7 linked regions of the Homo sapiens genome follow. The protein of the gene in region 2 interacts with the protein of the main gene of each other region in a pairwise test. Each region holds a gene or a part of one and is shown on either strand. Other genes may lie near its edges.

Region 1 (3,500 bases), on a different chromosome or scaffold from region 2:
CATTCAAACAAAGATTCTCTTAGGCCACCTGTTAGGGGCTGCCTTGTGTCCTCACAAAATTCATATGCTGAAGCCCTTACCCGCAGTACTCAGAATGTGATTGTATTTGGAGATAGGACCTTTAAGGAGGTAAGGTGAAATGAGGCTGATAGGGTGGGTTCTAATCCAATATGACTGGTGTTCTTATAAGAAGAGGGAATTTGGACACACAGAGAGCCCCCAGGGGAGTGTGTGCACAGAGGGGCTGCCATGTGAGGACACAGCAGTCATTGGCAAGCCAAGGAGAGAGGCCTCTGAGGAAAACCAACCCTGCTGGCACCCTGATCTTGGACTTCCAGTCTCCAGAACTCTGAGCAAATAAATTTCTTTTGCTTAAGCCACTCAGCCCTGGTATGTTGTTATGGAAACCCTAGCAAATGGATACACCACCTTTACTTGAAAATGTAGTGATAGGTGAACAGCACTTGTTAAAGCTGGGATTTGTCTACCTTCCTTGTGTAATTCACATTCCTGAATTGAATGTCTTCTTCAGAATGAATGCTCTTCATATGCCTGTAGAATTACAACCTGCTCCATGGGCTGTCTCTTGTCTCCCAGGGCCATTCTCCACCCCAGCGGACAGACAGCCATAATTCAAAAAGGGAGGCTCTTCTATGGCTGTTTTCAGCTGGGATCAGGGAAAAAATACTGGAATATACTCTAGGAGTCCTGCTTTTGCACCAGAAGGCTTTGGATGGTGTAGGTGCCTCCAGACATACATTCAAAGCAGAGTTGCCCACACAATATTAAAACACTTACATCCCCCAACCGAGGGGATCTCCCTAGCCCTAACATCTGCTGGGATCCTTCTTCATTTTCTACCAGATGCCCTTGAGTCATGCTCAGAGTAAAGCTGTGCTTGTCAGAACCATTTGTTTCTTGGTTATTATATCCACTCTTGATTTCAGCTAGAGTTCAGCTTTGGCTTCATATCCTAAATTTTGAACTGTTATCTGGGCTCAAGGAATTATGGTTCTGAGCTGAAAAGGGTGACATTGCAACCTTTCAGACAGCTGTCCCTGACTCCATGAAATTCCTTGAGCTCCGCACTGGAAGCAGAGGACACATTACCACCTATGACCCCTAAGTGTCTTTTGGTGATAAGAGTGAAGAACATGTACCACAGTCCTGCTACAAAAACAGATGACATTTCAGGAATCAGGTAGCATCTTCTGCTGTAGAGAATGGCTTACGTTCTTAGTTTATCATTCATGAACCTTGGAGTTTCCAGTAAAATAATTTCTTTCCCTTCCCTCTTCTAGGTTGGGGGAGAAGATGACAGAATATCAGAGGCAAAGAAGCCCGGGAGGCAGGGCTGGGCACAGTGATGCTCCATAGATGGGCAAAAAGTTCCTCCCATCATTATCCTAAGGAGGGTGGACCAGGCAACAGGGAACACAGGATTGTCCTGGCCAAGGGGACATGCAGACGGCAAAATCAAGACTCACAGCAAAGAGAATACACAGAGAACACAAAGCCAGCGGTTCTGGAGGCAGACCCAGGAGAGACTTCTTAAGGAAGTGAGTGGTACACAGCTAGAAAAAAACAAGTGATGAGATAGAGTGTAGGTGTAGAAAGGGCACAAAACCAGTTTGAACTCATTTTGGAATAGAAGTTTCCTTAAGAATGTAGTTCACAATCAAGGAAACTCCAATCAAGTGGCAACATTGTAGGAGGAGAGCGTCCCGGTTCACCGGGAATGCCTCACACTTCTGTCCAGTCTGGGCATTTCTCTCTGAGACTCTTCCCTCCCTGACGACCCACTGACATGCTCTTCCCTCATTCAGTACACCTTGTGCGCTCCCTGGCTGGATCCAGCTCCCTTGCAAGTTGTGAATACTGCTGTCATCCTGCCACAATCTGCTCAAAAACCTCAGAGAGCTCCCTAGAGATGGACCACAGCAAATCTCTTCTCAGCCACTTGTCTTCCAAAGGTCATCTTTGTCCCACCTGCCACACTTACATTGCACAACTTCCTCTTGCTGCAACTTGTGTCCAATTCTAACTATTCTCACTGCTCCACTAGACAAGCCCTACTCAGGTATGCTTCTGTGCCTTAATTTTGTGGTTCCTTTTGCTGCAAGTAACCTTTCTTTACTCTTTCACCCTGATGCACAATTATCTTTGCCATTGTGTAAGGTAAGTGAGATCTTCCTGAGAGCTTCCTGTTTCCATGAAACCTTTCTGATGATGACCTATGACTCCTTTGAGCTGTTAACAGCTCGTGAGAATACTGCTTTGGGTATGCATATGTGCACACACACACACACACACACACACACACACACACACACACATCCCCCTTCTATTTGCAATCATGGCTAGACAAAAAGCTTTTTTTCCATTACAATGTAGAGAAAAGAAGAGATAGATCATGGGGGCTGTGAAGAGAGAGAAGATGAAGGAGAAGAGTTCCCTGTCTGGCTCACTGGGCTGAATTTGAAAAGCCAATATGGGCAAGGGAAGGGAGGTGAGGGCCCCTAAGTGGAATAAAAGATTTGGGGAGATAAGGCCCCAGACAAGCTGATTTGAGACCCAAGTGAAAGAGCAGAGTTGGGGAGGAGAGCATTCTTGTGGCTTCTGCAAATAAACGGCACCCCTTTTTGCAGTTCAACAGCTTTAGGAGCACCCCAAGACCATGCCCTTGGCAAGTACACTGTCATTTTTATGATGCCACTGGTAGTAGGGAGCCCTCTCCAAATTGCTCTGGGAAGACCAGAGTAGGGACGGAGGAGGCAAACAAGAGGAATGAGTCTGGGCAACTTGATGTGGCTGCTGCTGTCTGCAGGCGAGGAGCTGCTGAGCTGGCAGAAATTTCACTTATTTGCAGCTTGTTACACATGAGGAGCTGTTGCTACTTCATGTGTGTCTTATAAAGCTCTTTACTTAAACTCTTAAAACTTTTTAAAGTTTAAACTTAAAACTCTTCCTTGTACTTCAAGCTCTTTACAGAAATGAGCATGTTGCTAGCGTTCAAGAACTTTCCACGGATAAATCATCAATAAGTACTTAACTGAGGTGATAGGCTGGGTGTAGGAAGAACACCAGCATGCAAATTCACCAGCCATCCTCAGAGGGACTACATTCCTTCCGTTTCTCATGACTTTGCTTCTCCTATTGTTGCTGATTATTTTATTCAAGGGAAGAGAAGTTAGTTATTATTTAAAAGACTTGTGGGGTCCATGAGGCTTTAGACCATGCTATGTAAAATTGACTTCCAAGTGAGAAAGACAGGAGGCGTGGGCTCCTAGCCCTATGTGGGGCTCAGCTCTGGGGTTCCTTCTTGACCCAACAATTGTCTCTGTAAAAGGAACCCCTGGGCTGGCTTAGTCATTGGCTTCTGAGAAGCACTTTCCTTTGCAGAATGCTGGAAAGGCTGGGTCTGTGGGTCCAGAGCCACTGAGTCCTAGATCCAGAGGGTGGCATAGGGTCCCTTGTTCCAGGCAGGGAAGTGCCCCAGC
Region 2 (3,500 bases):
CGGGGGGAGGAGGATGTTTAATTTTTACAGCTCATCATTATCAAGGCCATTTTAAAACCTTTCAGGACCCCAAGAACTGGTAAAAGATTATGTTGACTTGTCCCAGATACCTCAAAATAAAACTTTTATGGCAGTTTTCTCCGATTAGCCATCTGCCTCATTTTCAAAATCACACAAAGCTTACCAGCATAATGAAATCAAATGAAAATATCTTCTTTCTAGATTTTCCTGACTAGTTTATCTTCATTCCTTCACACTGGCTATAACAGGGTTTTACTGCGATTCTCTTTGGATTGAGTGTTCCTGTGGCATTCCAGGCAGGAATATCGTTTTCATGGGAACTTTCTTTGATTGGACAGCTGCCTCATTCCGGGAAACAAAATTTTGGACGAGTCCCTCAAAACTGAACCTCCCTCTCCTCTCTTCTCTCTCTCTCTTTTGGGAGAGGTCCCTGTCTGCTGGTGCCCCATCATTCTCCATCAATGGGGCACACGACCTTCACTCTGAAAATAAACCTTGACGTCGTAAAGACGACCCACCTGGAGTCTCCACCCGGCGGTAGTGGTAAGGGTTAATGCACACTTCTTTCTGCTTGGAGCCAAATGGGAACTCACAGCACTCCAGCGGCTTCAGCTCGTGGTGGGACTGCAGATCCGGCCAGCGCCACACGCGACAGTAAATCACATGGGGCAGGCCCTTGCGGTGGGACACCTGCAGCCGCCCGTCCAGGGAGCGGGGAATCGTGACGCATTTGCTGGGCTGCCCCGGGCAGCTGAGAGCCCTCTCCAGCTCGTCCATGGCTCCCTTCTTCTTCTTTAACTTCTTCACTAGAGAGTCCACTGCCTTCTCTGCCCACTTTTCCTCTTCATCTCCTTGCTTCCAGCCTAGCAGTCTCTTCACTGCGGGGCTGGTGAAGGAGAAGAGGGAGCTGATGGGGGTGGTGGAGTGCATAAGAGGCCACAGCAGGCTCCGGCGCGCACGGGAACCGCACAGCCCTTCACGGCAAAGTGGGCGGCGAGTAGCTCTCCAGGGGTGGCATAGGGACCAACCCGCCCGTTCTTCTGGGAGCAGCTGGGACCAATTCAAGTTGCGAAGTGTGTTGACTTTCTCCTAAGCCCTTGAACAGGGTGGCCAACTCTGGAAAACACGACAAGACTTCAATTAGCTTAATCGGAGTAACATTCAGAAAAAGTTGAAGTTGGATAGAAAGAGGCAATCTACACCTACAGTCCCAGCTACTCAAGTGGGTGAATGGCTCGAGCCCAGGAGGTCAAGGCTGCGCCACTGCACTCCAGCCTGAGCAACAGAACCAGGCCCCAAAGTTGGATAGAAGGGAAAAAACATTCTTCAAATGTTTTAATTTTAAAACTGTTGTCTTTGACTCTGCCCTCTCCTGTATTTCCTATATCCAGGTCTCAGGTCATTCTGCCCTCAAAGTCTTTGGAGTTTGTCCTTTCTCTCCATTTCTGCCAACACCTGAGGTCTGACTCACCACACCACTTCTCTGAAGTAGCATCTCTCTTTCTCTCTTTCAATTCGAATTCACTTACTCCCAAACACAGCTCTTATCATTTTCCCATTTAAGAAATGACAGTGGCTCCTTGGTCTCCCAAGTGTAAACTCCTCTGCCTGGGTTTTTCCAGGGCCTCCATAATCTGCCCTCAACATGAGTATGTTCTTTCTTTCTCATTTTTAGTTTGCACAAGCAATCCATCTTCTTGTAGAAAATAAATACTAATGAAAAGAAAAGAAAAAAAGAATCGTGAATAATCTCACCACTCCTGGACAGCCATTCTTAACATAGTCTTCCAAACTACTTTTCAGGACAGTGGCTCTCAAAGTGTGCCCCAAGGATCCCTGGGAGTCCCCTGAGATCCTTTTAAGGGGACTATGAGGTTCTCTCTTTTCCAATTACTTATTTGTGTGAACTAACTTCGCTTCACATACTTCAACCAAAACAACATAACACAATAGAGTATATGGAGAAAAGATGACAATCTAGGTGCCATTTATTAAGCCAAGTATTAAATAGATTTGCAGTAATATAAAACAATAATACTCTTCTCAATAACTTTTTTGAAAACAATGTTTTAAATAAAAATATTTTATGTTAATACAGTTTTTTTAATGATTCAATCAATATTTTTTTAATTTCTTAGTTTCAATTTTTAAAATGGTAAAAATTGATAGATACAGCCTACAGAAGCAAGAGTTCTTTGGAGTTCTCAATAATTTTTAAAAGTGGAAATTTTCAAGACCCAAATGCATGAGAACTGCTTTTCTAGAAATTATACACTATCACACACCAATACATACACAAAAAAGCACAGCTGTCACATTTGTTATTTGGCCTAAAATCAGCTTAATTCTTCTTTGCCCTGTCATCCACAGGAGATGTTCTTTCCCAGTTATTCAGCAGTCTCATTTAAATTTCCTGAGGTCGAACTGTATTTCCTCTTCTGTGAAATAGTTGGCTTAAACAAAACCTCCTCCTCCTTCCAGATTTTAGAAACCAGCTACCTCATTAATGTTTAAAGTGGCTGGCTGGTAACATTTTGGAGTAAGCTGACTCAAGTATTTTGGGATCTTGGAATCGATGTAGCTTATAATCTCCAACAATTGTTTGTTTAATATGCATTAAATATAATTTTCTCCTTTGCTTCCCTGGAGGGCAAGCTGTACCTTTCTGAGTCCAATTCTATAAACTTCTTTCGAACAAAGGTGCCTTATAACCCCCCGCTAGGGTGATCATTATCGGGCACCTCAGGTGAGGAGGATGGCAGCATGGTCCCACAATAACGGATGAGATTTAATAAGTATAAAGCAATAGTCACATCACTTTATTCCTCATCTGGGCTTTATCTGGCATTGTACAGAGATAAACTATGACAAAAGGGAGAGTTGAGAGCTCCATAGCTGCTCTTTTCGCTTGGCAGTTTGACTTACACTCAGTTTTATTTGGAAAGGTTGATTTTGTGGCTTAACAATCATGAATTTATAAAGTATAGTTAAGTCATTGTGTTCAAGTTCTGTTTACTTAATCTAGTCAGGCTGCCTTAAAGCAATGGCTGAAGAGGGTTAGAAGCTTTAAGGAGAAGTCTCATGATAGAATAACCTGAACCCCAAAAGAGTTGTGAATTCTGCTTAGTTTTACATGGAACTCATTATTAGTAAGTTGTGGTATAGATCTTTAAGCTGAGGTCAGTCATAGAGAAAAGCTTTTTATAAAAACACTCAGCGAGTTAAACCAAATACACCTTTTAGAAACTTTTGCTCCATGAAACAACAGTTCCCTAAACCAGGTTTTGTTTGGTTCGTTTTTTTAAACTGTGGGTTTCTATTTACCAATGGCATGTGAAATCAATGAATTGGAACAAAACAGCTTTTGCACAAACAACAAAACAAAACAGACTTTATTGCAGAGCAGCTGACGAAAAATAAGTATAATAATAATCATTTCATGAAAAATTTTCATTCACAGGTATGTGCTGTGTGTGTGT
Region 3 (4,204 bases), on a different chromosome or scaffold from region 2:
ATGAGAGGCAGTGGAGAGCCAGCAAAGGCTTTTCAGGCAGGCGAGTGACTAAAGCAAATTTATCTTTATGTATTTATTTTGAGACAGTCTTGCTCTGTCACCCAGGCTGGAGTACAATGGTGAGATCTCGGCTCACTGCAACCTCCGCCTCCTGGGTTCAAGCAATTCTGTCTGCCTCAGCCTCCCGAGTAGCTGGGATCATAGGTGCCCACCACCATGCCCAGCTAATTTTTGTATTTTTAGTAGAGACAGTGTTTTGCCATGTTGGCCAGGCTGGTCTCGAACTCCTGACCTCAGGCGATCTGCCCACCTCAGCCTCCCAAAGTGGTGGGATTACAGGTGTGAGCCACTGTGCCTGGCTGTATTTTTTTTTTTTTTTTTTTTTTTGAGACGGAGTCTCGCTCTGTCACCCAGGCTGGAGTGCACTGGCATGATCTCGGCTCACTGCAAGCTCCACCTCCCGGGTTTATGCCATTCCCTTGCCTCAGCCTCCCGAGTAGCTGGGACTACAGGCGCCTGCCACCACGCCCGGGTAATCTTTTTTTTTTTTTTTGTATTTTTAGTACAGACGGGGTTTCACCACGTTAGCCAGGATGGTCTCGATCTCCTGACCTCGTGATCTGCCTGCCTTGGCCTCCCGAAGTGCTGGGATTACAGGCGTGAGCCACCATGCCCAGCTTTTTTTTTTTTTTTTTTTTTTTTTGAGATGCAGTCTTGCTCTGTTGCCCAGGCTGAAGTGCAGCGGTGCCATCTTGGCTCACTGCAGTCTCCGCCTCCCAGGCTCAAGAGAGTCACCACACCCAGCTAATTTATATATTTTTAGTACAGACGGGGTTTCACCCTGTTGGCCAGGCTGGTCTTGAACTCCTGACCTCAGGTGATCCACCTACCTCGGCCTCCCAAAGTTCTGGGATTACAGACAGGCTTGAGCCACTGCTCCTGGCCACAAATTATCTTTTACAATAGCCGTTCTGGCTTCATTGCAATGGACAGATGGGAAGAGACTAGAACAATGCCGCCCAGCAGGGCTTTCTGGGATGATGGAAATGATCTTAATCTTTGCTGTTCAATAGGGGCATTAACCACATGTCGCTGTCAAGCACTTGAAATGTGGTTAGTGCGACTGAGAAGCTGAATTTAAAATTTTATGGAATCTTAATTGGTCTACATTTAAATTAAAACAACCGCATGGACCAGCAGCTACCTTATTATACAGCATAAGTCTACAGGCTGGCAGGCCTGTTAGGAAAAGAAAAAAATAAAAGAAAAATTGAGATGTCTTGGAAGGTTGAAAAAAAAACTTTTAAATAGTGTTTACATGTTTTGTGTACTGATTTGCATATAGCTGTATTTACTGACTTATTTTGACACACATTATCACACACCCCTTAGTATCCTTCTCTTGAATATAAGGCATCAAACAAATAATTTTTAAGATACCCTCACTCGTGGCTCACACCTGTAATCCCAGCACTTTAGGAGGCCGAGGTGGGTGGATCACCTGAAGTCAGGAGTTCGAGACCAGCCTGGCCAACATGGCAACACCCCATCTTTACTAAAAATACAAAAATTAGCTGGGCGTGGTGGTGCACCCTTGTCATTCCAGCTACTTGGGAGGCTGAGGCAGGAGAACTGCTTGAACCTGGGAGGCAGATGTTGCAATGAGCTGAGATCGCACCACTGCACTCCAGGCTGGGCAACGGAGTGAGACTCTGTCTCAAAAAAAAAAAAAAAAATACCCTCACTGTTAGTGAGTCCTTGTGTTTACAACCTGAACACAGGAAAAATCCATTCACAGGTTTTCTACACAGTGGAGTCTTGCAACTTGCAGGTTCTACACGGTACCTACCTGATCATACAGAAGTCCACGGATCAGTGAGGATAGGTGAAACTTGAGGCTGGTTTCAACACAAATCTGAGCTTGAATTATACTTTTTTCGTCTAAATAAAAAGGGCACAAAAATCGCTTATGAGGCCTTTTGTAGGGAGTAATATGTACGTATAGTAAAATGTATTTACTGAGACTAATACAGTTGTTGCATAGAAAGACCACCCCATTCACTTAAAAAAAATTGATTTAAAGAATAAGAACCCAGGCTACTGGCTGTGCCTGAATTCACCAGATTCCTATCCAGCCATCTGGTCCCTAAAATGGGACAAGAAGCTTAAAGCTGTTTTCATCTGACTTGCTTAACTCATTTGGCTGGAGATTGTATGGTGACTCCAGATGCTTTAAATTCGTCACTTTAGGCCTTATAAGTGGACTCGGCTGAATTCTAAATAATTTCTACAGTGTATTCAGGACTGCAGAGATTTTAATGCCCTCCAGCAGGGTTTCCCAACCTGGGCACTAATGACATTTGGGGCTGGATGAGTCTTTGCTGGCGGCGGCTGCTTTACGCGCTGCAGGATGCTGAGCTGCTAGCATCCCTGGCCTCCACCCTCTAGATTACAGTAGTAGCACAGTCCCTCCTACCCTCCATTTTGTGACATCCCAAACCGTCTCCAACTATAGCCAAAAGTCCCCTGGGGCGCAGAATCGCCCCGGGTGAGGGCGACAGGGTGAGGACGACAGAGTGAGGATGACAGGGGCGCGGGGCCCGGACACCGGAGGAAACAGCAGCTTCGGGCTTAACTGAGCGCACAGCCCGAGGCCTCAGGGGCGGAAACCCGGCTCCCGGGAGGGACGCAGGCCCGCGGCTGGGGCCCCTCTCTGGACTCGGACTCACGGAATGAAGCACCTCTCGCGGAGACCGAAAGATTCTCCCAGACGCTGCAAGCGCGGCTCTTCTCACAAGACACAAGCGCGCTTCCGCTTCCGGTCTCCGGCTAGCCACACTGCACCTCCGCTTCCGGCTCCAGCTGGTCCCAGCCCAAAATGCGGCGTGTCAGGACCCCCGGGTTCAGGCTGCAGGTGCAGCAGCCGCGCACCCCAGCCTCCGGCTGAGGTGTTCTAGTTTGCTTAGTTATTAATAGAACCAGGTTGGGCCCTGGCTAGGGACAGCCGCGGAGGCAGGGTCGTCCTGGCGCGGGTCTGTGGCAGGGTTGGGGGCGGAACTAGCTCTTGAGCGGGGCTGTGGGCGGTACCAGGCCTGGAGGCGGGCCTGAGTGTTGACGGGGACCAGTTCCGGGGGCGGGGACCAACTCTGGAGCGGGGCTGTGGGCGGTACCAGGCCTGGAGGCAGGGCTGAGTGTGGGTGGAGATCAGCTCCGGGGGTGGGGAGAAGTTCTGGGGCGGGACCGTGGGCGGTACCAGGCATGGGGGCGGGGCTGTCAGGACAGAGACTAAGTTCCGGGGCGAGGTTGTGGGCGGGCATTAGGTTTGATGGGCGGATCTTGCTGTGGGTTAATACCAGGTTTGGTGGGCGAGTATGTGGACAAGATAAGGCAGTGGTGGGGCATGGAATGGGGTTGAGCTAGTAGGCTGAGAGGACAAGACTTGGTGGAGGTCAGTTTTTGGGTGTAGGGCTTTTTGTGGATTTTAAAACTGTTCAGGTAGCAGGATGCAAAATGAACTCTTTAAAGTTTTCTTCAGTCATTTCTCCACATTCACCGCCTGTTAAAATGATATAGCCACACATTTAGGGCGTGTGTGTGTGTGTGTGTGTGTGTGGCTTTTCGTTTGTTTGTTTTGAGACAGGGTCTCACTCTGTGGCCCAGGCTGGAGTGCAGTGGTGCAATCATAGCTCACTGCAGCCTCGACCTCCTGAGCTCAAGCCATCCTTCCACCCGGGCCTCCCACACTACCAAGCCTGACTATTTTTGTATTTGTTTGTAGAGAGGAGGTCTGTGTTGCCCAGGATGGTCTAGAACTCATGGCCTCAAGTCATACCCCACTTCGGCCTCCCAAAGTGCTGAGATTACAGGTGTGAGCCACACCACACCCAGCCTTTTTGTGTGATTTTGAGCTTCCTAATTTCTTTCAAAAATGGGATCATGTATGCATATTTCTCCCATCCAGAGGGGGACGAGGGGAGGGAGGACTAGGGAGGGATGTCTCCAAGTGAAAGCCAAAGCTGATTAATTGTCTAGTGCACATCTGGATCTACTGAAAAGAGAACTACATTTCTGGTGGAGAAAATAGGTGTTGGATTCATAGGAAGAAATAAAAAAGGAAATTTTAAAATTTAAGAGATCAAAAGAAAAAATGAGAAAAAATTATTAATGACATACTACTTGTTACATGTCTGGCTAAGGTTTAGAT
Region 4 (3,500 bases), on a different chromosome or scaffold from region 2:
ATACACAACACTACAGTGTTCATAACAGAGTTGTGCAATCACTACAAACAATTTTAGAGCATTTTTACTATCCAAGAAGAAACCTCATATCCACCACTTCTTTCTTCCCCCCTAGCCCTAGGCAATCGCTAATTTACTTTCTGTCTCATAGCTCTTCTGGACATGTCATATAAGTGGAATTATGTAATATTATTAGCATATTTGCAAGGTTCATCCATGTTGTAGCATATATCAGTATTTCATTCCTTATTATGGCTGAGATTCCATTGCGGGGATACACCATGTTTTGTTTATCCATTTGTCAGCTGATGGACCTTTGGGTTGGTTTCCCCTTTTGGCTTCATGAATAATGAATAATATGAATAATGCTGCTGAAGAACATTCATGTACAAGTTATCATGTGGACATGTTTTCAGTTGCTTTGGATACCTAGGAGTAGAATAGCTGGGTCAAATAGTAACTCTGTAGGGAGGGGAACATCACACACTGGGGCCTGTCAGCGGGTGGGGGGCTAGGGGAGGGATAGCATTAGGAGAAATACCTAATGTAGAAGACGGGTTGATGGGTGCAGCAAACCACCATGGCACGTGTATACCTATGTAACAAACCTGCACATTCTGCACATGTATCCCCAAACTTAAAATATAATTTTAAAAGAGGAAAAAAAGTAGTAACTCTGATTAACTTTTTGAGAAACTGTCAGACTATTTTCCAAAGTGACTGCAGCGTTTTTACATCCCCACCAGCAGTGTATCTAGGTTTTGATTTCTGTACACCCTTGCCAACACTTGTTATTGTCTTTTTGATTGTAACCATCCTTATGGGTGTGAAATGGTATCTTGTTTCCCTGATGGTTAACGGTGTTGATCATGTGCTTATTGGACTCCAACTTTTTTTTTTTTTTGAGACAGTCTTACTCTGTTGACCAGGCTGGAGTGCAGTGGCGCTATCTCAGCTCACTGCAACCTCCGCCACCCCGGGTTCAAGCACTTCTCCCACCTCAGCCTCCTGAATAGCTGGGATTACAGACGCCCACCACCATTCCTGGCTAATTTTTGTATTTTTAGTAGAGACGGGGTTTCACCATTTTGGTCAGGCTGGTCTTGAACTCCTGACCTCAGGTGATCCACCGACCTCAGCCTCCCAAAGTGCTGGGATTACAGACGTGAGCCACTGCTCCCGGCCTGGACTCCATCTTCTTTGGAGAAATGTCTGTTCAGATAATTTGCCCACTTCTGAATTGGGTTATTTGACATCTTATAATTGAGTTGTAAGAGTTTTTTATATCTTCTGAATACAAGTTACTTGTCAGATTTGCAAATATTTTCTCCCATTCTGTGGATGTTAATTTTTTTAGTAAATTCTCAAGATACCTATGTTCCATTTTATTGAACTCTACTACAGAGTTTTACAATATTATTTTATGTTTTGTATTATTTTTGCTTTTACTTGATAATGTAAAAAGCCTATATATGGTTATTTATATAATATATAAGTATATAAAATTTATATGTATTTTATGTAAAATATGCATACACATATATTTCAGAATTTCATAAATTATTCTGTTCTTTATTAATAATTTGGAGAATGGCTAATGATGTCATAAGGATGCAAGTTTAGACTGTTTTAATGTTATTTTCTTATTTGTGATTATTAAAGTTAAATATGTTGTTTATTATCTTTTCTAAAACTACATATTTCACAACATATGATTCCATAATTGTCTATCTCGTCTTAAAAAACTGTGGTCAAGTGCGGTGTCATATGGTTGGCACTCTTTTCTGCATACTTTCTCATCAACTTGTAAACACCATTGGATTCAGTCCTTCATTGAGGATACTTTGCATGTGTTCTTACTTTCAATGAGGTTTCTCAAAGAAATGTCTACCAGATACATAGAAGGAGTTTTCAGTAGCATTCGAAAAGAATGTATTTCTACTATTTCTGCAGGAGTTTGGTCAAATGGCACAAATAAAGCCACTTAAGAGATTCTTTACACATATCAGATGTACTTGGCCACTTTGGATGAATGTGGAATTATGTGCTTTTTTCTCCTCATAATACTTTGTAGTGTGGAAATACTTCTGTGTGCTAGAAGTTGGTTTCACTCTTCTGTTTAGCAGGAGAGAAAGGAAAATTAAGTAAGTAACTTGAATAGAAACCCTAATTTAAAGCATATACAAATGTAGTAATGAATGCTCTGTGGAGTTTATCACAAAAAGCTTTCTGGTTCCGTGGGCTGCTCTTCATTGCTAATTAAATTTTCGAAGGTGATTCTCTACCCCTCCCTTCCAATACACACAAGGAAGAAAAAAGATTGTTCAGGATTCTGTGGGGATTTATGTGGGCCGTGAAAATGTATCACGCCTGTAATCCCAGCAATTTGGGAGGCCGAGGTCAGTGGATCACCTGAGGTCAGGCGTTCAAGACCAGCGCGGCCAACATGGTGAAACCCCGTCTCTACTAAAAATACAAAAGTAAGCCGGGTGTGGTTGCAGGCACCTGTAATCCCAGCTACTTGGGAGGCTGAGACAGGAGAATCGCTTGAACCCAGGAGGTGGAGGTTGCAGTGAGCCAAGATTGCACCACTGCACTCCAATCTGGGTGACAAAGCAAGACTCTGTCTCAAAAAAAAAAAAAAAAAAATATATATATATATATATATATATATTTTATATATATATATATATATATATATATAAAAAAACGAAGGGTAACATTCAGGAGTCAAATAATTCTTAAATGAAGGCACGCCTTTTATTTTAGCAAAGCACCTGCCTCTCTTTAGTGCCTATGGGGATGTCAATAATATGAGGGCAGACAGTATTGCAACAAAAGGAAGATAAAAAGGAAGAGCAGAGAGGGAAAAGATGTTTTGTCATGTAGGGGAGACCTATGTGTGTTCTTGGGCAGGAGGAAAGACTGAACACAGGAGAGGGACTAGTAATCTTATGGATGCAGGTTGGCATGGAGGAAGGTCATATTATTCTCTGATATCGATAAAAGGAAAGGCAGTATTTATAGAGAGATGTTGTGAAGTTGAAACAAGTTCCATACGGCCTCAATTTCAGAAAAATGGTTTAAGACAATTGTTTATCTTATTTATGCATTGTAAAAAAAAAATCCACCAAATAAACTCAGAAAATACAAATTGGTAGGGAGAAAAAAAAATGAAAAGTTATCCCCATAGTTCCACCAGGAAGACATCACAGCACTTTTGAGCTGCATGGTCCAGTAGAGTATAGTATAGTACCAGCCATTTGTGGCTACCGGGTGCTTGAAATGTGGCCAGTGCAACTAAGGAACTGAATTTTTATTTTTATTTTTTTGTTATTTAAATAGCCACGTGGCCACATGAACAGTGGAGCTTCCCCCGCTCCCCCCCAAGAGACAGGTTCTCACTCTGTCACCCAGGCTGGAATGCGGTGGCACAAACTCGGCTTACTGCAACCTCTGCCTCCCGGGTTCAAGCAATTCTGCCTCAGCCACCTGAGTAG
Region 5 (4,007 bases), on a different chromosome or scaffold from region 2:
ATGGATTAAACTGCTAAATAGAAAACTATTTCTCTGATTTGGGAAATGAGAAGGCTATTCTAAGACTTTGAGAAAATATAAGGTCTTACACTTTTGAAATGGAAGAATTATTACTATAAAATACATATAATCCCCAAGTTAATTCAATATTTTCTATATTGAAATCAAAATCCTTACTGACTTCATTGGTAATATGTAAAAATGAATTTAAAATTCATATTAAATAATAAGTGGGTAAGAATTAACTAGAAAAAGAATAGATTTTTTAAAAGGAGAATTTGCACTACCAGATATTTAAATATGTTGTAAAGTTACAATAGTTAAAACATTTTGGCAATGATACAAATGAGATAGAGAATGGGATGAAATAGAAAGCCAGGAAGAGATCAAATACCCATAAGCATTTAGCACATGATAAACATGACATTCAATTAAATTGGAAAAGGACAGATGGCTATTAAGCAAGTAGTGCTGGGACAACTGGTTAACTATTTATTTTTTAAAATCAAGTTAGACCTCTTTGTCATATCATACACAAAAATAAATTCCAGATGGATTAAGCTGCTACATGGAAAACTATTTCTCTGATTTGGGAAATGAGAGAGCTATTCTAAAACTATGAACAAATATAGGATCTTAAGGAAAATGTTTGATAGATTTGAGTGTATAAAAATGTAAACCATTCATCTAACAACATTTCCATAAACAAAAATAAAAGGCAGTGAACTGGAAAAACATTTGCAACATATACACAAAAGAATTACTGGCCTCACTATATAAAGAACTTTTGCAAATCATTAAGAAAAAAAAACAAGCCAATGTGTTAAGAAAAAACAAACAAGCACTATAATGGCAAAATGGGCAAAAACTATAAATATCAGAGGAAAAAATACAAATGTCCAGTAGATGTACTGGAAAATGTTCATCCTCAAAAATCAAAAATGTGTATTTGCTAAAATGATGCCTCCATCACCTCTTAAATTGACAAAGATATTAAAAAGAATAGTATGATATTGGTGAATATGTGGCAAATTTACTGCTGAGATACTCTGCTGATGAGAATATAAATTTATACAACCCTCCAAGGGAGAAATGGACAATAGTATCAAGAAGTTACAAATGTTCATAACCTTTAGTTCAGGAACTTTTATAGAAATTCTTCCTAAAGATGTAAACAGAGGAGTCCACAAATATTTATGTTCACGATAACTTAGTAAGGAAAAATCCTAAGTGTCCAACAATAAGTGATTGTTGCACGCAATGGAATAGTATGCAGCTAATGTAGAACATTTTAATTAGGATATAACAAACGAAAAATGTAGGCTACAAAACAGCAAGATATTAAAAGTATGAATGGATGTACATACTGGGCAACTGTTCAACAACCTGCAAACAGTGGCTTTTTTAAAGTGATGAAATTTTAGGGTTTTTTTTTCCTCTCCCTACTTTTTGTTTAATTCAGTCCACAAACACTGGCTTGCTATTATGTGTTAGATATTTCTATATGTTTCTTTTTCCCCCACTGAATATGGATTAATTTGTAATCAGAAAAACAGACACACTTTACAAAAGTCCGACATCCCAAACTGACTTCCTCTTCCAGATATTAAAAATCTAATAAAGGATTGGAGCAAAAATAGGAAGGGCACGAATCTTACATTGAAAGCATAACATAACTTTAAAAAGAATTGGGGTTAGGTTTATATCACTCCATGTCCTACCTTTAGAAACACTTTGTAAACCATGCTCACCTGTTTCAGCTTGGATACCGTCTGCTCCTACAAACGTGAATGTGATTAGCGTTTCAAGGATCCCTTCCTAACAGGGTCCTCGAAGCCGACTATCTAAGGAGCCTGACATCCCTCTAAGCGTTTTAAAATCCATTATCCCATTGGAACCTCCACAACAATAATAGGCGGGTAGCGATGACTCTGGTTTTGTGGATGGGGACGCTTGACTTGGGGTGGTTATGCCTTGCCCAGGACTGAACCCCGGGATAGAGACGGGCAGGCAGCGGTGGGTCGAAGGGCCCGGGGACTAGGGCCCGGGTCGGGAGGGGCGGGCGCCTTACCGCGGCTTGCTGGAAGGCGCCCTTGGTGTAGGTGCCGCCACCTCGGTAGGAGATGGCAGGGATCTCTTGGAGGAGCAGCGCGCACTTGTGCTGGCGCGCGCGGCGGGTGGAGATGTAATCGACGCGCGGCACCACGTAGTTCTTGGACGAGAAGGTCACGATGGCCACGCGCGTGGCCGTGGGCACCACGGGGAAGTCGGACAGCAGCTTGCGGACGAACATGAGCTCGCTGCGGAAGTTGACTTCGCCCACGCTGGACGAATCATCCACCAGGAAGACAAGCTCCAGGCGCTCGCTGAGCTCCCGCAGCAGCCGCACGCGTCGCCGGAACGCCTGGCCCAGCCGCTCCACTCTGCTCCCCGCCGCTTCGTCGCCAGGAGCGGGCGGCGCGGGGATACTCCCGGGGGCCCCGGGCGCGGTCTCGGGGAAGAGGCGGAAGCTGAAATTGCGCGACGGGGACATCTGCTGAAAGGTCGCCCAGCCCGAAACGAGCGCCAGACCCCAGCAACAAAAGGCCAGGCGAGGCCACATCGCGCTGGAGACAGAGCGGCTGCCCCGGAGCGCAGGCGGCGGCTCGGGCGGGAAGAGGCGCTGGGCGGCCGGACTCGCAGAGGGGCGTGCGCGGAGCTGGGCGCGGGGCAGCGGCCAAGAGCCTCAGCGCCCTTTCATCTGACACTGGGGACAGACACAATCCAGACTCCTCAGCAGCTCGGGAACTCCGGAGGGAACGGCGCGCGCTCTCTACCCCTCTCGCTCTCCTCTTTTTTTCTTCCCTCTCTCCTCCTCCTCTCTCTCCCTGAAGCCTATAAAATGTTTGAAGGAAAGGGGGCAGTCAAGAAAAATCTCCCGCTTCCCTCCTTCTCTCCCTCTCTCCCTCTCCCCGCTCCTGTCTACTTTCTGTATCTGTGACTCTATCTCCCTCCTCCCCCTCTCATTCTCCTCCCGGGATCAAGCCAAAGGCTCGGAGATTCCATGACACCAGAACCCCGCGTCTGTCAGGCTGTCAACATTCCCGCAGCAAGCGCACCAGCGCCGAAGCCCTGATTGATCCCATATGTCTGGCAGGAGCTGCAGAGGAATTCACTGGAGATGGATCCAGATACCGAGAGTGCCACAGTAATTGGAAACACTTTGTAGACGAAAACATACACGCGGACTGGCCAGGGAGTTGAAAGCATCCTTTGAAAACTGCTTGCTCACCTTTTGTGTTTCTTTTCCCCCATTCAGTGTCCCAAAGCCCTCGCCAAATAGATGATTGTACAATTTTCCTGATGGGGATTTCTAATCAGTGGTGTGTGTGAGCGTGCAGATTAAGCCCTTAAGGGCCCCCTCAGATCACACCATAAAGGAGTTGCATCTAACCTTATGCGTTCCACAGGAATGATTTGTCATGGTACTTCAGTCGTGCATTTATTCATTCATCTGTTTGTTCATTCTTTCCTGATTTTAACAAATATTTTTTGAATACCCATTGTGTGCCAGGAACTATGTGAGGCACTGCAAATATAAGGAACAAAAATTGACAGGGATTCTATCCTCAATGAACTTAAAGGGTAACAAGTGAGGTGACCATTAACCAGATATTAACATACAAAATATATGTAATTACAAGTGACCATGCTAAATAAAGGAGAGCTTAGGTAGACAGACTTGACCTTGGAGAGGCCAGAGAAGCCTTCTCTGAGGACAGAAAGTTTGTGCTGAAGTCTGAAGTGTAAGTAGGGGGTCCCCAGTCCCCTTTCATGTGTTCTTGATCTATTTCAACAGATAAGATCCACCTGGCTTTAAGTGGTACCTGGCATATATCTGCTTTGAAACAAGTTGCTACCTGGGGTGGTTTTTCCAAAGCAAGACCTCCAAAGGGGAGAGCGCACGTGTAAAGAAAAGGTGCACTTTGCATGAGGGTGGGGCCTTTGGTTAAAAGATTCCAGCTGGG
Region 6 (3,500 bases), on a different chromosome or scaffold from region 2:
TCACCTGAGGTCAGGAGTTCGAAACCAGCCTGGCCAACATGGCGAAACCCCGTCTCTGCTAAAAATACAAAAATTAGCTGGGCGTGGTGGTGGGCACCTGTAATCCCAGCTACTCGGGAAGCTGAGGCAGGAGAATCGCTTGAACCTGGGAGGCGGAGGTTGCAGTGAGCCGAGATTGCGCCATTGCACTCCAGCCTGGGCAACAGAGTGAGACTCTGTCTCAAAGAAAATAATAATAATAATAATAATAATCAGATAAATAGAAAAAGAGGAAAGGCAGAATTTACAAACATATATTAACCAAGAAATAGTGTTATTTATTCTTTACCATACAAATTTGCATTGAAAAGTTCACAATATTTGATTTTTGAGCTTTCTGAGCTCAGGATTGGTCAGAGCTTGAAGTTTAAAATAGTTGACAGATTTAGGGAATAGCTTTCATGTTAGTTACCGCATGTTCATTAGCTTTGAGTTGCATGGGAACCATGTAAAGTAACCCACGCATTTTGCGTCTATGTAAGGGAATGATTAGAAGGATAACAACAACATAGTTCTTTCTTAACTCTCTATCAGTTCCAGATCTCTATACACTTCACCAACATCTATCATTATTCTTAGTTTATAATGATGAAACAGACTAGGTATAAAAAATGGAAAATTAGATTAGGTCGCGAAGCAAATATAAACCAAGCAAGATAAAATCCACTCATGTTGACTATCATAGTATTGAGATCCAGGAATCCATGCTGTCTGTAGTTAAAGCAGATTATCTTCACTGCCATCTATTGGTCTTTATCCTGAATTAGGAGAGAAATCCCCCGAGGTTCTGCATGGCAAATAAAGAGTTAGGAAAGCCAAAATATCAGTGGGTATCATAAGTGATTTACTCTAGATAAATCACTGAATCATAGTGACAAGCCCTTAGGAGCTCTGCCTTAGAATTTCCCAAGGGTTTCGTAGATGATCCTGCAGCAAAGAATGAATTCCAGGGTGTCAGATCTGACTTGATGGCATTTTAGGGACTTGGCCAAGGTTCCCACTTGATATTTGGGACTAAAATGCCCCACCTGAAAAGAAGCGTTCTACCTTGCAATTAAAGAAAATGTGGGCCAGGCACGGTGGCTCATGCCTGTAATCCCAGCAGTTTGGGAGGCCGAGGTGGGCAGATCACCTGAGGTCAGAAGTTTGAGACCAGCCTGGCCAACCTGGTGAAACTCCAACTCTACTAAAAATACCAAAAAAAAAAAAAAAAAAAAAAAAATTAGCCAGGTGTGGTGGTGGGTGCCTGTAGTCCCAGCTACTTGGGAGGCTGAGGCAGGAGAATTGCCTGAACTTGGGAGGAGGAGGTTGCAGTAAGCTGAGATCATGCCATTGCACTCTAGCCTGAGCAACAAGAACAAGACTCCACCTCAAAACAAAAACAAAAACAAAACAAAACAAAAAAAGACTGGGCATGGTAGCTCATGCCTGTAATCCTAGCACTCTGGGAGGCTGAAGTGGGCGGATTGCCTGAGCTCAGGAGTTCGAGACCAGCCTGGGCAACACGGTGAAACCCCGTCTCTACTAAAATACAAAAATATTAGCTGGGCGTGGCAGCGTGCGCCTGGGTGCGCCTGTGATCCCAGCTACTCTGGAGGCTGAGGCAGGAGAATCGCTTGAACCCGGGAGGCGGAGGTTGCAGTGAGCCCAGATCATGCCACTGCACTCCAGCCTGGGTGACAGAGCAAAACTCCGTCTCCAAAAAACAAAAACAAAACAAAACCAAACAAAAAACAAAAACAAAAAAAAGAAAATGTGAAAATGGATAGTTCTGAGGAAATGGGAAAAGCCAGTTGCTGAGAGAACTGCAGTAAAGGTAAGTCGGTCCCATGAAGGGATACCTACTTCCTACCTCTGCTCCTCAGCTATGTTCTCTTCATAAGCAGAAATTCTGTGACCAGGCAACTTTCTGTATGGTCAGGTTGCCTGGCCTAAGTCCTTGGCTTGACTAAAAGCCCTTAATAATCCAGCCAGTCCCCCACGGTTTCAGAGGAATTTCTAGGACTGCTAACCTTCTATTGGCTTACTAGGGATTCAGGTCCTAATCTATAACCTCAACATGTGCTTTGACCATGTGCCTCCCAGGCTCCACTACGGATATAACAGGAAGTACTTACAAAATTCCTTTATCTTTTTTTTTTCCTTTTTGCAATCAGTTTCTCAGGTTAAAAAATAAATTCCTTTATCTTTGTTTGAAAGAGAAGATCACCACCTTAAACTTCCTAAATGTTCATGAGTCAAACAGGATGATAATATTTACCCCACTGTTATCATCCCTACCTTTTATTTAATGTCATGAGTATAGGGTGTGGACCGGAAGAAGCAATACAGAGTTTCACAGTTGTGCTGGGTAATTCATAAGTTTTGTATGTGCCTGGGATATTAGGGTTGTAAATCACAATTAAAGATGAAAAATGTTAGGAGGGAAGTAAAGCAGAAAGCCCAAATCAGACAGTGAATCAGGGATTAAGTGGGAGTGGTGGAAAGGCAGGCTAAGAACATTTACAGAGATAGAAAATAGCAGAGACTCTCTCAAAACAAGAATTCATTGTTCTAGCATTCAGGAAGTGTCTATATAGGGTGTGGAGGAAAAAAAAGGAGATGTGGGACATTTCAGAGCAGACACTGCCCAGACTAGATCTTTTATCCTTCCATGCACATGCACATGTACACCTTAGTTCCATTATAAGCTTTTGGTGAAAAAAGTAAAGCATTTTATTGAAAAAGCCTCACAGTTCTGACTCTTTGTCATTTTCATCCAGGTAGTATTCATCATCTGTGGTTGTGTCTGTGTCACAATCTGAGTCCACTGGGTCATCCTCATAGATATTAAGCGGTTCACTTGGAGATAAGCCATCTTCTGGCACCTGACTACTGGGAGAATTTGAGCTTAATGACTCTGAGGGGTTGGGAGGGTTCCTCAAATCATCTTTTAGGAAGCCAGGGTTCTTAAGAAAACTTGGTTTCCATAATCTTCCTTGTGTAAGTGACCTCTTTACATTTTCTAAGAAAGCTAACTGTTGTTCTTTCCCAAAGATCCCATAGTCGATAGGTCTGTATATAGATATTGCAGACCTGGGACCTGTTTTTGTCCCGCTGCGATAAGCCCAACTTTCATTTCCATCACAGGAGGGGAGTTCAGAAAAAGATCTGAATCTTCGACTGTACCCATTGTTGACAGAGAATTCATTCCCAAGGGTCAGTCGACTCAGGGCATTGTCAATAGAAGTGCTTTCAGAAAAATGGCGCTCCCTGACTTTTGGAGGATGGCTTTTTCGTAGTAGATCGCCATGAACATTAATGCTTTTTAAACTCTTTGAACGATAGAGGTGTGGCTCAGGTTCCCACTCCAGAGATGAAGCACTCCTTTGTTGCTGCAGAAAACTGGCCAGTGGACTGCTTACTCTAGATTTCTGTGCAGGCTCCAGTGGAAAAGGAGGGCTCAGCCTCCTCTGATTGTC
Region 7 (3,500 bases), on a different chromosome or scaffold from region 2:
ATGGGAGGGGGTGGGGCACCAAGGGGACAAGTGGAGGCAAGGTGAGCAGAAGAGGAGGGAACCTGGGTCCTCCAGAGACCCACCTCCTAGGGGCCAGTTCTATGGGACCACACATCCACCTGCCCTCCCTCACTTGGGGATCCAGGGAGGGGTAGGTGCCAAGGGCCAGAAGGAAGACACTCTGAGAATATGGGTATCTTAGAGACCGCCAATTCCCACCGTAAAGCACATTTCACCGAGTTCATTGAAGTCAGTGATCCTAACATCTATATTCCCTAAATCGGATAGGGAAACTGAGGCCAGGGGAGCGACCTCCCAGGTCACTCGGTGGGTCAGGCAGAGCTGGGACAGGTGCTGAGGTGGGGAGAGGTTGAGAAACTCTTGAGGCTCTCTTCATATTGGAGTTATTTTATCCCAATGTAAGGAAGGAACAGTTCCTAAAAAAGCCTTCAGAGGCTCCCAACCTTCAATTCGACCCAGGGCAAGTCCTTTCTCTTTCTGAGTCTCAGTTTTCTCCCTATTGAAATGATGAGAGCAGTCCTGGCTTTTTAGAGAGGTTGTAAGAACCCAAGGCAGGCTCCAGAGCCCCTAGCACAAACCCTGCTGTCCCAAACCCCCTCTGCCCACACGCCCCTCACCCTGTGATCTTGACTGAGTGGGTCCCATGCCGGCGGTATCTCTCTGGCCTCCCAAGGCTCACTGGCGTGTGGCTGTAGATGCCTCCCTTGTATAGGAAGAAGTCCTCATGCACCTCCATGAGGGCTGTGGGCAGATGTCAAGGTAGGGTCCACTCAGCCCGTTGGCACAGGCACTGGAGCCTGAGTCTATTGAGATGTGCCCAGGCACCAGGGTCCCTCCATACCAAAGCTCTAAGTGCTCCCTCCAGGTGCTGCCTGTGGGAGGGGGGGACCCCTACTCCTGGCCCTACTGGACATGCTGCTGAATGCTGTGCAGGCCACTTGTGCTACTGTGCCCACTCTCAAGCAGGCACAAGCTTCTGGAACCAGGGTGCTGGATAAGGGGGTTTACCTTGGACAGGGCCATTCTCCATCAGCTCCTTCATGATCTCCTTGTCCTGGAGGGCAGGGGATGGACAGAGAGCATACGTCAGGGGTGAGACTCCAGGCTTTCACAACCCTCCTGCCTCGGCGCCCTCACCCAAGTGCTGACTTACGTTGGAGCCGAGGCGGTAGACAGGAGTGACCTGGTAGATGTCATTGTTATTAACATAGCTGTTGGGGCAGTGGGCAGTGGCCTGGCGCTTGCCCCGACCCATGGCTCGGCTGTGCATCATACAGGGGGGCGCAGGGCCAGCCTCGTCTCGTTCACGGCCCGAGAAGGGGTAGCAGTGGTCAGACACCACCCTGCAAAGGCAGCAAGAGGGAGCAAAGGCAGAAAGACTCAGTGCATCATGGCCCAGGCCATGCCCACGGAGCTCCTTGCCCTCTTCTCTGCCCACATCCCCTGTTGCTGCATACCCTCGGCGACGCAGGAACCACCAGGCACCATCGAGACGCCCACCGCGGCAGCCCTGCTGCTGGTGGGTGTCACAAGACAGCAGGTTCTGGGGCGACAGGACAGGCGTCATGTGTCCCAGAGAATGGATTGAGACACGATCGGATGCCACAGCTGGTGGGGTGAGATAGAGGGGCTGTCGGGAGGCTCAGGACTTGGCCCTCCTCTCCCAGGCGCCAGCCCTTGCCCTTGGCTTACCTGCTGTGGAGAAGGCCCAGGAGCCTGCACAGTTGCCTTGGTCAAGAGGCTCATGAATCAGGTTGGGCCACTTCTCAGAGGCCTCGAAGGCTGTGGGAAGCACCTCCCCTGGGTTCAGCACTGTCTGCAAGATAAAGGTTGCCCTGTCTGCCTCCTGCTCTGCCCTGGCCTGCCCCTCAGGTGCCCATTGGCACTGGAGGGCCACCAAGTCCAGGGCCTTCTGCAGTTTAATCTTGAGCCCTCCTGCTGCTGCAGGATTCCAGCTGCCTCCAATTTTGACTTGTGTTGAAGAACCAAGCACCATTTAGTGCCTCCCAGGTATCAGGTGGTGGGGCGGGGCGGGGTGGCGGTGGTGACTAGTCCTGCTTCCCAGATGAGGCAGCTGAGGCCAGGCACAGAGAAGTGGCCAGGCCAGGTCCCTCAGCTTTCCATTCTCAACCCCTGCCTCTTTCCTCTGCACCTTCTGATCGGCCTTAGCTTTCTTCAGGCCTTAGCTTTCCCTCAGGGGAGGGAAGAGGCAGTAGGGTCCCGTGACCAGGCAGTCTGCCAACACAAACAGCAAGAGGCAGAAAATAGCCAGAGGCCCAGGGGAATAAGGGCAGGGCCAGGGTCTGGTCACCCAAGGCCGAAGTCTCCGCAGGGAGGGCCACTCCTGCCAGCCCCTGCCTCCCCGCTGCCTGCCACTGATGGACAAATGCTCCGGCACATGTCCCGGTCCAGGCCTGCTGAAGCTCCCCTTCCTCACCCTTTCACTTTGGGCCTGGTTTTCATTCCTCTCCCAGAGGGTCCCACTGGTGGGAAGGGAGAAGCCCTCTCCTCCCTTGGGGTTCCGCTGAACCGGCATTTATTTCCGAGAACTGCTGCCCTCTGGCCAGAACTGGAGGAGTGTGTGTCCTTCCCTTCCCAAAATACCAAGGTGACCCCCTGTCCCCTTGGGCCCTAACCCAGCTGTACTGAGACCAACAGCATTTTTCCCAGGCTGGAGAGATCAGGGGGGAGCTGATGCCAAGACCACGAAATTCAATCTGAGCATCAGTTCTTCCAGCACAGCACATCCTGTGGAAGCAGGGAACAGAGGCCCAGAGAAGGGGAGTAACTTGTCCAGGGACACACAGCCTTGTAGTAGGGGATGGTCCAGGCCCTTGGAGGAGCAGGGCACAGGGCCAGCATCCCTGAGGTTCTGAGCCATGGGGAGATGGCAGCATTGTGGGGAAGGATGGACTTACATAAATTTCATGCATGTTCATGACCGAGGAAGATGGGCGGATGGTGCCCAGGCGGTAGCGAATGCCCTCATCCAGGGTCATGCCCCAGAAGGCGCTGTGGTTCCCAGCCTGCCAGCTGAAGGAGAGGGGACGGAAGGAAGTCACAGATCTGCCGAGGCTCAGGGTCCTTGGCGTGGGTGCATGTGGGTGGGAGAGACGCACAGTGGCTGAGCGCACACACAGTCAAATCTGGGTGTAGGAGTGGCCTGCTGGACGTGCCCCACAGCACAGCATGCGTGTATACATGCATGAGTATGCATGTGTGCCCACTGAGGGTGCCTCTAGGGCCTCTCACCCATAGTTGCCCTGGTTGATGGCTTTGATCATGTCTGGATCCACCAGGCATGGTTCTTGGTCACACTGCCACTGCCTGTTCTCCTGGCAGGTGCTGGTGAGAAAAGGAGAGAAGGAAAGGGTAAGTGGGGGACTGGGGATACTTTGAAGGAATGTGGCCTCGGAGGTTAACATGGGCCAGGGAGTCTGTGCAAGTGACTGTGGGAGAATCTCTAGGTGATCCCATCC

The links.
Region 1: the proteins of SMAD9 (region 2) and FLI1 interact in a two-hybrid assay, tested with the Homo sapiens proteins (one large-scale study listed by BioGRID and IntAct).
Region 3: the proteins of SMAD9 (region 2) and ZNF557 interact in a two-hybrid assay, tested with the Homo sapiens proteins (one large-scale study listed by BioGRID and IntAct).
Region 4: the proteins of SMAD9 (region 2) and ZNF592 interact in a two-hybrid assay, tested with the Homo sapiens proteins (one large-scale study listed by BioGRID and IntAct).
Region 5: the proteins of SMAD9 (region 2) and SVEP1 interact in a two-hybrid assay, tested with the Homo sapiens proteins (one large-scale study listed by BioGRID and IntAct).
Region 6: the proteins of SMAD9 (region 2) and EXPH5 interact in a two-hybrid assay, tested with the Homo sapiens proteins (one large-scale study listed by BioGRID and IntAct).
Region 7: the proteins of SMAD9 (region 2) and TINAGL1 interact in a two-hybrid assay, tested with the Homo sapiens proteins (one large-scale study listed by BioGRID and IntAct).

What each region holds. Positions count from the first base shown.
Region 1 is NC_000011.10:128,753,072-128,756,571, reverse strand, and holds part of FLI1 (Friend leukemia integration 1 transcription factor), read right to left. Parts: intron 1-3,500. UniProt on the Homo sapiens protein: Sequence-specific transcriptional activator. Recognizes the DNA sequence 5'-C[CA]GGAAGT-3'.
Region 2 is NC_000013.11:36,878,739-36,882,238, forward strand, and holds part of SMAD9 (mothers against decapentaplegic homolog 9), read right to left. Parts: intron 2,040-3,500; exon of another isoform or gene 1,551-2,039; intron 1,138-1,550; 5' UTR 952-1,137; coding exon 540-951; intron 1-539. UniProt on the Homo sapiens protein: Transcriptional modulator activated by BMP (bone morphogenetic proteins) type 1 receptor kinase. SMAD9 is a receptor-regulated SMAD (R-SMAD).
Region 3 is NC_000019.10:7,068,299-7,072,502, reverse strand, and holds the start of ZNF557 (zinc finger protein 557), read right to left. Parts: upstream 2,801-4,204; 5' UTR 2,730-2,800; intron 1,942-2,729; 5' UTR 1,850-1,941; intron 1-1,849. UniProt on the Homo sapiens protein: May be involved in transcriptional regulation.
Region 4 is NC_000015.10:84,793,592-84,797,091, forward strand, and holds part of ZNF592 (zinc finger protein 592), read left to right. Parts: intron 1-3,500.
Region 5 is NC_000009.12:110,576,942-110,580,948, forward strand, and holds the start of SVEP1 (sushi, von Willebrand factor type A, EGF and pentraxin domain-containing protein 1 precursor), read right to left. Parts: upstream 2,801-4,007; 5' UTR 2,603-2,800; coding exon 2,072-2,602; intron 1-2,071.
Region 6 is NC_000011.10:108,506,769-108,510,268, forward strand, and holds part of EXPH5 (exophilin-5), read right to left. Parts: coding exon 2,769-3,500; 3' UTR 1-2,768. UniProt on the Homo sapiens protein: May act as Rab effector protein and play a role in vesicle trafficking.
Region 7 is NC_000001.11:31,583,015-31,586,514, reverse strand, and holds part of TINAGL1 (tubulointerstitial nephritis antigen-like isoform 1 precursor), read right to left. Parts: intron 3,367-3,500; coding exon 3,274-3,366; intron 3,055-3,273; coding exon 2,940-3,054; intron 1,838-2,939; coding exon 1,714-1,837; intron 1,630-1,713; coding exon 1,479-1,629; intron 1,365-1,478; coding exon 1,175-1,364; intron 1,076-1,174; coding exon 1,030-1,075; intron 763-1,029; coding exon 639-762; intron 1-638. UniProt on the Homo sapiens protein: May be implicated in the adrenocortical zonation and in mechanisms for repressing the CYP11B1 gene expression in adrenocortical cells. This is a non catalytic peptidase C1 family protein.